2 separate regions of the Homo sapiens genome follow, and region 1 is linked to region 2. The links come from fine-mapping of genetic effects on gene expression. A gene starts in region 2. The other region holds a variant in brackets. All regions are shown on one strand. Distances are between the middles of the regions.

The links. PIP is the estimated chance that this variant, and not a neighbour inherited with it, causes the effect.
Region 1: its variant is the best candidate, but not a certain one, in a credible set for the expression of AFAP1L1 in subcutaneous fat (TwinsUK, PIP 0.73).

What each region holds. Positions count from the first base shown.
Region 1 is chr5:149,300,509-149,304,897 of GRCh38, forward strand. It overlaps AFAP1L1 (actin filament associated protein 1 like 1), which reads left to right. Exons shown (of 19, transcript NM_152406.4): 4 at 625-722; 5 at 1,910-2,018. Among named protein-coding and RNA genes, the nearest start is that of AFAP1L1, 31 kb to the left of the region's middle. The variant G/C (reference allele first, on the strand shown) is at 2,117.
Region 2 is chr5:149,269,962-149,274,350 of GRCh38, forward strand. It overlaps AFAP1L1 (actin filament associated protein 1 like 1), which reads left to right and starts at 1,898. Exons shown (of 19, transcript NM_152406.4): 1 at 1,898-2,023. The coding sequence starts at 2,008. RefSeq lists enhancers at 1,877-2,416, 2,417-2,958, 2,959-3,498.

The DNA of each region.
Region 1 (4,389 bases), 31 kb after region 2:
AAGTCTAATCAAAGTCTGCATAGGAATAGGAATTCAGCTCAGAGACTTGAGGAATGGTAGGGATGACCATGCAGTCCAAAGAAGGCATGGCACATTAGGGTGTTTCCTCACCGGCCACTCCCAGGTGATTGCCACTTGAGACACTGGGCTGAGCGATGCAGTGGCTCAGCAGAAATGATAGCTTGCATGGCTGCCACGGGCATGGGAGCAGCTGAGCTGGCTGCATGCAGAGTACCTGCCGTCCTAGCCCTATCCTGAGGGAAGACAGCTCTGTTCAACACAGAAAGAAAGCTACAGGCCTTGGTGAGAGAGTTTTGGGGACTCATAGACTTAGGGAGCACACTGTGCCTTTATAGCATAACCCTCAAAGATTTCCAAAGTACCAAAACAAGTATGATTTTATTTGATCCTCTCTACAATCCTGGAAAACAGACAAGGCAGGCATCATTGCCACCACGTACAGATGAGTTTCAGAGTCAAAAGTCATTTGTTTAGGGTTACTAACGGAGGGGTGGTGGAGCCCGACCTCACACTCAGGCCTCCTGACCCCAAATCCAGCCCTCTTCCCCTGGTCTGTGCTGCTCATCCTTGGCTTTCTTTGCCCAATGGCCTGTCCCTCTGTAGACTGTGACCTGAGTGACCTTCGGGACATGCCAGAGGATGATGGGGAGCCCAGCAAAGGAGCCAGCCCTGAGCTAGCCAAGAGCCCACGCCTGAGAAACGTGAGTCATGGCCTGGGTTCCCACACCTCAGGGCCTCTGTCCCTCTGGAGGAGGCAAGGGAAGCTCTCCCCTTCCCACTGGGTGCTCTCCTGGCGGTTCTGGACCCTGTTGTCTCTCTCGGGTTGTGGGTGAGGGCACAGGCAGCACCATGTGAACATTTCAATGGCCCGTGATGTGCTCGCTGTGTGTTTTTTTTCTTATTTATTTTTATTTTTATTCTTTATTTTGCCACCTTCCTGACTGGGAAGTCACAGTGTTTGTGCTGAGCAGGGAGAATGTGGTGAACTTACCTGTGCCCTCAGGCCCGAAGGACGTCACCAGCCCAACTTCCGATTGCATAACATAAGCCAGGCTATGGAAAAAGCTCTGGACCAGGAGTTGGGTGACCTCTGCCCACCCCCATGACTCTGCTGTGTAGCCTTAGGCGAGTCGCTTCTCTTCTCTGAGCCTGAGTTTGTCACCTACAGAATGAAAGACTGGACCAGATATAGGATGCGCAACCTTGGGGCCATGGAATTAGAGCAAGGGGCTCATAATCACAACAAGCTTTGTCTGTCAACTGCATAATTCATTGTCATCATCACCAGCAACAGTACCAGTCACTAGCAACTTACTATGTCCTTTACATGCTGACAGCAACTGAATGAGGCTGGCACAATTGTTATCCCCATTTTACAGATGAGGAAACTGAGGCTCAGAGAGAATGAGTGATATGACCCATGTCCCACAACTCACACGTGGCAGAACTTAGCTGTAAAGCCACGGTTCCCCTGGCCCAGTGGCTCAGCACTCAGCTGCGGGTGGTCCTGCCTCACTAAAGAACAGGCCTCACGCTTCCTTGTCCTACTGCACCTCGTGTGTGTGTAGACGTGGTTACAGAGTAGTGCAGAACTCACAGTAGCTTCTGGTAATTCTGCATGTGCTCAGTAAAAAGTATGACTACTACTGTTTGGCAGTCCACAAAACTTGCAGACATTCCAGGGGAACCCTGATGATTAAAAAAAATTGGGGTAAGAATCACTGGATAAATATGCCCTCGAGTTTTACCAGCTCTGTGGCTCTATAAAAGGTATGGCTTCACATTCACACTGCCTCCTGCCTTCTGCGAGCTCCTGCCTCCCTCTCCCTCAGCCTCTCTCTCCCTACCCTGCTCCGCTCCCCTAGCCCTCTTTTTTGTCCCCTTGCAGGCGGCCGACCTGCCTCCACCGCTCCCCAACAAGCCTCCCCCTGAGGACTACTATGAAGAGGCCCTTCCTCTGGGACCCGGCAAGTCGCCTGAGTACATCAGCTCCCACAGTAAGTTCTGGTCCTCTTGGTGGGGCTGGGGACTTCCTGTCCCTGAGAAGCCAAATTTAAGTTCCTCTGTGTCCTGTGGGAGCTGGAACTGCAAGCCT[G/C]TCACCCTCCCAACCATGTCACCATTGGCTTAGGAGAAGCTACCCTGGGCACCTGGCCTCTTCGGTGACAGCCTGGGTGGACCAATATGTGGGGCCCCAGGGGCTGGGGGCTTAGGTTCTAGTCCCAGATCTGTGTGGCCTTGGAAAATCCCCTTGCCCTCTGGATCTCTGTGCTTCCACCCTTAAAACAAGAAAGAGGAAGCAGACGCACCATGTCAGTGTGCTAGGAGGCAGCTACACAGATGACCACCACTATACTGTTCCCCCTACTAAAACTGCTAACCCAAGTGCTCCTCTTGAGTGGGTGGTGAAATTGTTTCAGTAGAATGACCTCCTATAGGTGGGTTAGGTTATCGAGTCAATGCGTAAAATAAAAAGCACGTGGTCTAAACCAGAGGCTGTCAGAGTAGAGTGGGGGTACCCAGGGGTTCATAACATGATGTAGGCAGAAATATCAGAAGCTTTACTTCTATTTAATTCAACATATCTTTTAATAAATTCCATGTGAATGTTTTGTAGCATTTATAATCTGATAATAGCATATTTGTAAAAAAAAGTTTATATATACATATATAACATAGAAAAATAAACATAAATATATGTATATATTTTTACTAGTAGGTGGGTGCAGTAAAATAATTTAGTGGGCACTGGTACAAGTTACCATTGAAAATCCCTTAAACTGGCCATAAAGGAGAGTCTTTGGTCTTTTCATCGGCTTCCTCCAGCATTGCAACACATGGACGTTCTTTTGAATGAAGAGATCAGATGAAGTCACTTGTTTGGGTAAAAGGACTTAACGTTACATATAAGAAACTACATCCTAATGTTTGGATGGCTCAGCATGAGTAGTTGAATTTGTATAAGATAATGTTTGTGTGATGCTGCTCTGTCATTCAGTAGCACAGTGGAATGCTCTCCAACCACCAAAAAATAATCAAATTTCTAAAATGAATTCTGATCAGCAAAGACAGATCGGTTTTATTATGTCATTGAAAATGTCAAACACAAAATACTGCATACAACAATTCCATTTGTTTTTTTAAATAGGGTGTACACAAACACACACACACACATGCATCCGTTTTAACAATTTTTCAAGGATATGCAAGGAACTATTAACAGGATTTTCCTGCGGGAAATTAATAGAAATATGGGTGAAGGGAACGTATTTTTTTCATTCATACTCTTTTCTATTACTGTTTGTGCTTTTTACCATGGGTGAATTTTTTTACTGTGGTAAAATACACGTAAGATTAACCATTTCCACCATTTCAAGCTGTCCAGCAAGTGGCATTTAGTACATTCAGTACATTCACAGTATTTGCAGCCATCACAACTATCTAGTCCCCAAACATTGTCATCACCCCAGAAGGAAGCCCATACCACTAAGCAGTCACTCCCCATTCCCCACCCCAGCCCCTGCTAACCACCAATTCACTTTCTGTCCATATGGATTTGCCTATTCTGGACATTTCACATAAATGGAGTCATATAATTTGTGGCCTTTTGTGTCTGGCTTCTTTCACTTAGCATGTTTTCTAGGTTCATCCATGTCGTAGCATGCCTCAGAACTTCTTTCCTTTCTATGGCTGAACACTATCCCACCATACGGATAGACCACATTGTGCTTATCCATTCCTCAGCTGATGGACCTTGGGCTGATTGCACCTTTTGGCTATGGTGCTTGGATCAGGTAATCCACAGCCCTCTTCAGCCTTGATAGTCTCAGGTTCTGTGTTATCGCAAACAGCTGTGGGGGTGTGAAACAGGCAACTTTATTTTATACACTCAAGGACAGGGAACAAAGTGCTGCTGGGCCTTGAATCCCAGGTCAAGCCTATTGGCTATATGGGGTTCCTTCACCTCCCCAGGGAACTCACTTCCCTCTCAGACAGGGCAGAGAAGACACCTCCCAGAAGCAGCTGGAATCCTGGGGCAGAAGGAAAGGGAGGGCTTCAGGAAGGGCCAGGAACCTTGTGCAGGGAGAGCACGCCAAGCCCATCAGGGAGTATCCTTCCTCTCGCTCACAGCGTCCAGCCCTGCCAGGTGTCTGAGTACTGTGTCCCCACGCCCCCTCACCCTTCCCTACTTCACACCTGACCCCCCCGTTCACCTCCCAGGAGATGTCCAGCGTCTGAGGCCTCAGGGTGCCTGCTGGAAAGGCGGGCTCCGAGCCTCACTTGGGAGATAGAACTGGGTGTCCCAGTCACTGGGAATGTCAGTGCTGCCGTCTTCAGGAAACAGATGCACAGGAGGGGCTAGGAGCCCAG
Region 2 (4,389 bases):
TGGAAAAGGGGACAGCAACAAAAAGGAACTCAGAAAATAATAATGGCTCATATTTTATAGCTGTTTGTGGTTTATAAAGTGGGTTTGTATTATTTCATTTGCCCTACCAACAGTCCTGTGAGGACTTACAGTATGAGGCTTCCCATAGCACAGATGAGCAAGAAAACCTCATTGACGAAAAGTTATTATACTATGTAGTATTTAGATTGGAGCAAAAGTAATAGCGTTTTTTGCCATTACTTTCAGTGGCAAAAACCACTATTACTTTTGCACCAAACTAACAGAACAAGAGCCATGCACAAGTTTTCATACACTGTTCACAACATCACATTTGGTCTGAGTGCTCACACACACACACACTAAATTACTGATGCAATATTTTAAGAAAATGTTAATTTTAATTTGCCCATAAAAGCAATAGAGAAAATATTCCCGGCCAGGCTAGGTGGCTGGCGCCTGTAATCCCAGCACTTTGGGAGGCCGAGGCAGGTGGATCACCTGAGGTCAGGAGTTCGAGACCAGCCTGGCCAACATGGCGAAACGTCGTCTCTACTAAAAATACAAAAATTTGCCCGGAGTGATGGTGGGCGCCTGTAATTCCAGCTACTCAGGAGGCTGAGGCAGGAGAATTGCTTGAACCCGGGAGGCAGAGGTTGCAGTGAGCCGAGATCGCGCCACTGCACTCCAGCCTCGGCGACAAAGGGAGACTTTTCAAGAAAAAAAAAAAAGAAGAAAAGAAAATATTCCCAGTCCAGGAAAGTACAGGAGGGTCTTTCCCAGGCCTTTTGTTGCCTCCATACCTCTGTGGTAGCTGTTCCCTGTTCCAGAATGTTCTAAGTAGGGAACAGTGGTCAGCTCAAAGCTGAAAACCATGGCCTGGCCCATGGTGGGAGGAGCAGTGTCTAGGAGAACAATTGGTCCTGGACTTTATGAAGGGTCTTAAAGTCAGACATTTGATATTGTGTATAAATGAGTGAGACCTATTTTCACAGGGATATACTAATAAGGTGAAGAAGTTGACATTCTTCATACAGCTTTAAACTTAGATCCCATTACTGTTCCACACTGGTCATAGCAATATTTTCTACAATCTTGCGAAAAGTACACTTATATTGCACTGTATTTTGTATGCTAAAAGTATTCATTTCCACATTTTTTATCACCCTGTTCTGCATGTTTTCACGTGTTACTCATTTTTCTATTCTTTTTCTGAATTCTCCCAGATCCTCGTTATGTTTTCACGTTTTAGTACACAAGGAACCTCAAAAGTTGAAAGTGTCCCAAGCCCTTGCCCACCTTTCAGCAAGCCTCTCTTTCTCCCTTTCCCAGGTGCTTTTCTTTCTGAAGATCTTTGTTATTATTTAACTCCTCTTTCGCAACACCACTGACATTGCACCGGCATCGCCGCGGGCCCACTGTCTGGCTTAGAAGGTGCTCAAGAAAGACCCGCGGCGAATGGAGAAGACAAGCCCAAAGCCAGGAAATGGGTGGCGGCTGCAGGGAAGGGGGTTTTGATTCCCTAGGATAAAAACGCGCTCCAACAGTCTCCGCATTCCGGCATGGAGCCGGCTGAGGGGTGCGGTGGTAAGACCCCATCGCTAGCGGAGTGCAAGCAAAGCCGCACACCTCCTGGGTCCGGGCTGGGGCAGGCCGCGCGGGCGCGGGAACGAACGCGTGCGGACGGGGAAAAGGGTCCTCCAAGCCCAAGTGGGAGCGCCGCGGAGGGCGAGCGAGCGGCAGGGCGCGGCGGGGCGTGTGCGGCACCACGGGACAGCGGGCTGCGGCCCAGGGGGCGAGGCGTGCTCGGGTCTATTCCGGGAGCGGCTCTGAGGGGCGGGCGCGGGCGCGGGCGGGGCGGGGGCTGCCGGCGAGCATCCTGTCTGGGGGAGGGGACCGCAGAGAGCGCCGGCCGCTGGGCTGGCCTGAGAGCGCAGCGCGCCGGCCGCTACCAGCCGCGCCGGAGCCCCTGCGCCCTGCGGCCCGCTCCCCGGGGACCGGGCCGGCGCCATGGACCGAGGCCAGGGTAAGAGGGGCCGCGACGCCCGCACTTGTTGCGGCGCCGGGCGGGAAAGGGAGACTGGACGATCTGAAGCCGGAGAGGAGGAGGGAGAGAGGCGGGCGGTGGGGCGGGGGCTGAGGAACGCTCGGAGGGGACTGGGAGACGCGGCGCTTATGCAAAGGTGCCTTCGGCTGCCGGGACAACCCGGTGCGTGTCAACGCCCGTGTCCTGGGGCCAACTCGCCTCTCGTGTGTGAAATCAGAGTTTTCATAGGCTAACGATTTGTAACTTCATAAAAGATCCCCCTCTAGTTTCCGGAGGACAGCGAGCTCCTCCCACCTCATTCCACTCTAAAGGGGAAAACAAGGTGTACAGGTTCAACTCCCGAAACACCCGCTGTGGGCAGCCCCTAGGGAGAAGCTCTAGGGGACCGAAGTTTGCAGCTGCCTAGGGCATTGCGAGAAGGAGGAGCGCCGTGAGCAGGCGCGCGTGTGCATGCATGTGTGCGCCAGGGAGGGAGGAGGCGGGGGTGGTTCTATCCCGCACCAGCTGTGTCCTCGGCCCAGCCCTTCTCTCTGGACCAGCGACAAAGTTGGACTAGATGGTCTCCAAGGCACCTTGCCGACCCTTTTCCAGTGTATTTGGTAGACGTTTCACAGAAGTGGAGGGGACTTACTGAAATTGAGATTGACATAAGCCGAGAGGGCAGCATTCGTAGGGGGCTAGCGCACATTTTTTTCTGTTTGTTTTGTTTTGTTTGAGACGGAGTTTCGCTCTTGTTGCCCAGGCTGGAGTGAAGTGGCGCGATCTTGGCTCACTGCAACCTCCGCCTCCCGGGTTCAAGCGATTCTCCTACCTCAGCCTCCCGAATAGCTGGGATTAGAGGCATGCGCCACCACACCCGGCTAATTTTTGTATTTTTAACAGAGACGGGGTTTCACCATATTGGCCAGGCTGGTCTGGAGCTCCTGACCTCAGGTGATCAGCCGGCCCCGGCCTCTCAAAGTGCTGGGATTACGGGCGTGAGCCACCGCGCCCGGCAGCGCACATTTTAAGTAAAGGTCTAGACATGGCCTTTGGCAATGGCCAGATGGGCATGTGTGTGTCTGTAAAGAAGTGGCCTGCTTGGACATGTGAACAGTGTCAGAGGCTGGGAATCAGAACCCCAGGGTTTCAGTCTGCACCTCTGGGATCCAAAGAGATCACAGGTGTGACGGCACTAGATAAACTAGTGAGTGCTGTGCCAACAGGCGAAGTGTTGTTGTTGTTGCTGTTATTAATAATGGAAAATTCATTCCCCTCCCCACGATAATCTCACACCTCTCCCCCATCTGCCTGTTTGCTGTGCTGAGCCCCCGAAGGGAGGAAAAAAAGAAGGGAACAGGGGCATGGGAGCAATTAGCAGGCACTGGGGCAGGGATGAGCCGGGAGCAGGTGTGGGGTAACCTCCCTTACTCCTGTTAAACGGAAAGTCAGGCTTGGCGAGCTCAGAGGGCCAGAGGGGACTCCTGGCTTCCAGTTCAACCTCCTCACTTGCCCCTCCCCAACAGAGAATACTGCATTCACCTTCTCCTTCAGGGACTGGGAAGGGCAGGCAGGAAAGAGAGTGGGCTTCTGTTTGGTTCTTTAGCAACTGAGGCCTAGATTTGTAAAGCAGTTCTCACCTGTTAACTGATTTCTAGGCAAGTGTGAAGAGTGTACATCAGGGAGGAAAAACAGAGAGAAGAGGCACCTCTCACACCCCTCAGTCCTGCTGTTCCCACCTCCTGCATAATGCGTCTAAAGCAAATACCACCATCCCCCCTCCCCTTCACACTCCTAGTCGCCCGCCACCTCCCCAACCTCTCCACCACCCCCACTCCCCACCAGTTTTTAAATACCAACCTGTCTGATCTCCAGTACAAAAATCCATACCTAGGCCTACCCAGGCCTGTGGAAAGTGCACTGTGTCATCCTAAGACAGAGTGACAATAGTTCACTTCACTTTAAATGCTTGGTAACCAACAACCTCCACGTCAGAAGGCTGCCTCCAGAGCACTCTTCCTAGGAAGTCAGACTTCCCAGGAATCCCTTGGTGCTGAGAGCCTAGGAGGGCTCTGACCTGCTCTCTCCCTGCAGGCTTTTCTAGCCTGCTATCTTTCTTTACACCTCTTGTCACAACTTTATAGACATAGTTATCTGACTCTTTAGTGTCGGCCTCCCTACCCAGAAGTAAGCTTCAGGAAGGCAAGGAGTGGATCTATTGTGATCAATCTGCTGACACTGCACCTGGCACATAGTGCACAGTGAGGAGCTCCAACAGTGGTTTAATTAGTAAAATACAACACACTTTATAGTGCACCTCGAATTGATTACTTGTACAGCAATACTTAGTAGTATTCTCTTTTTAA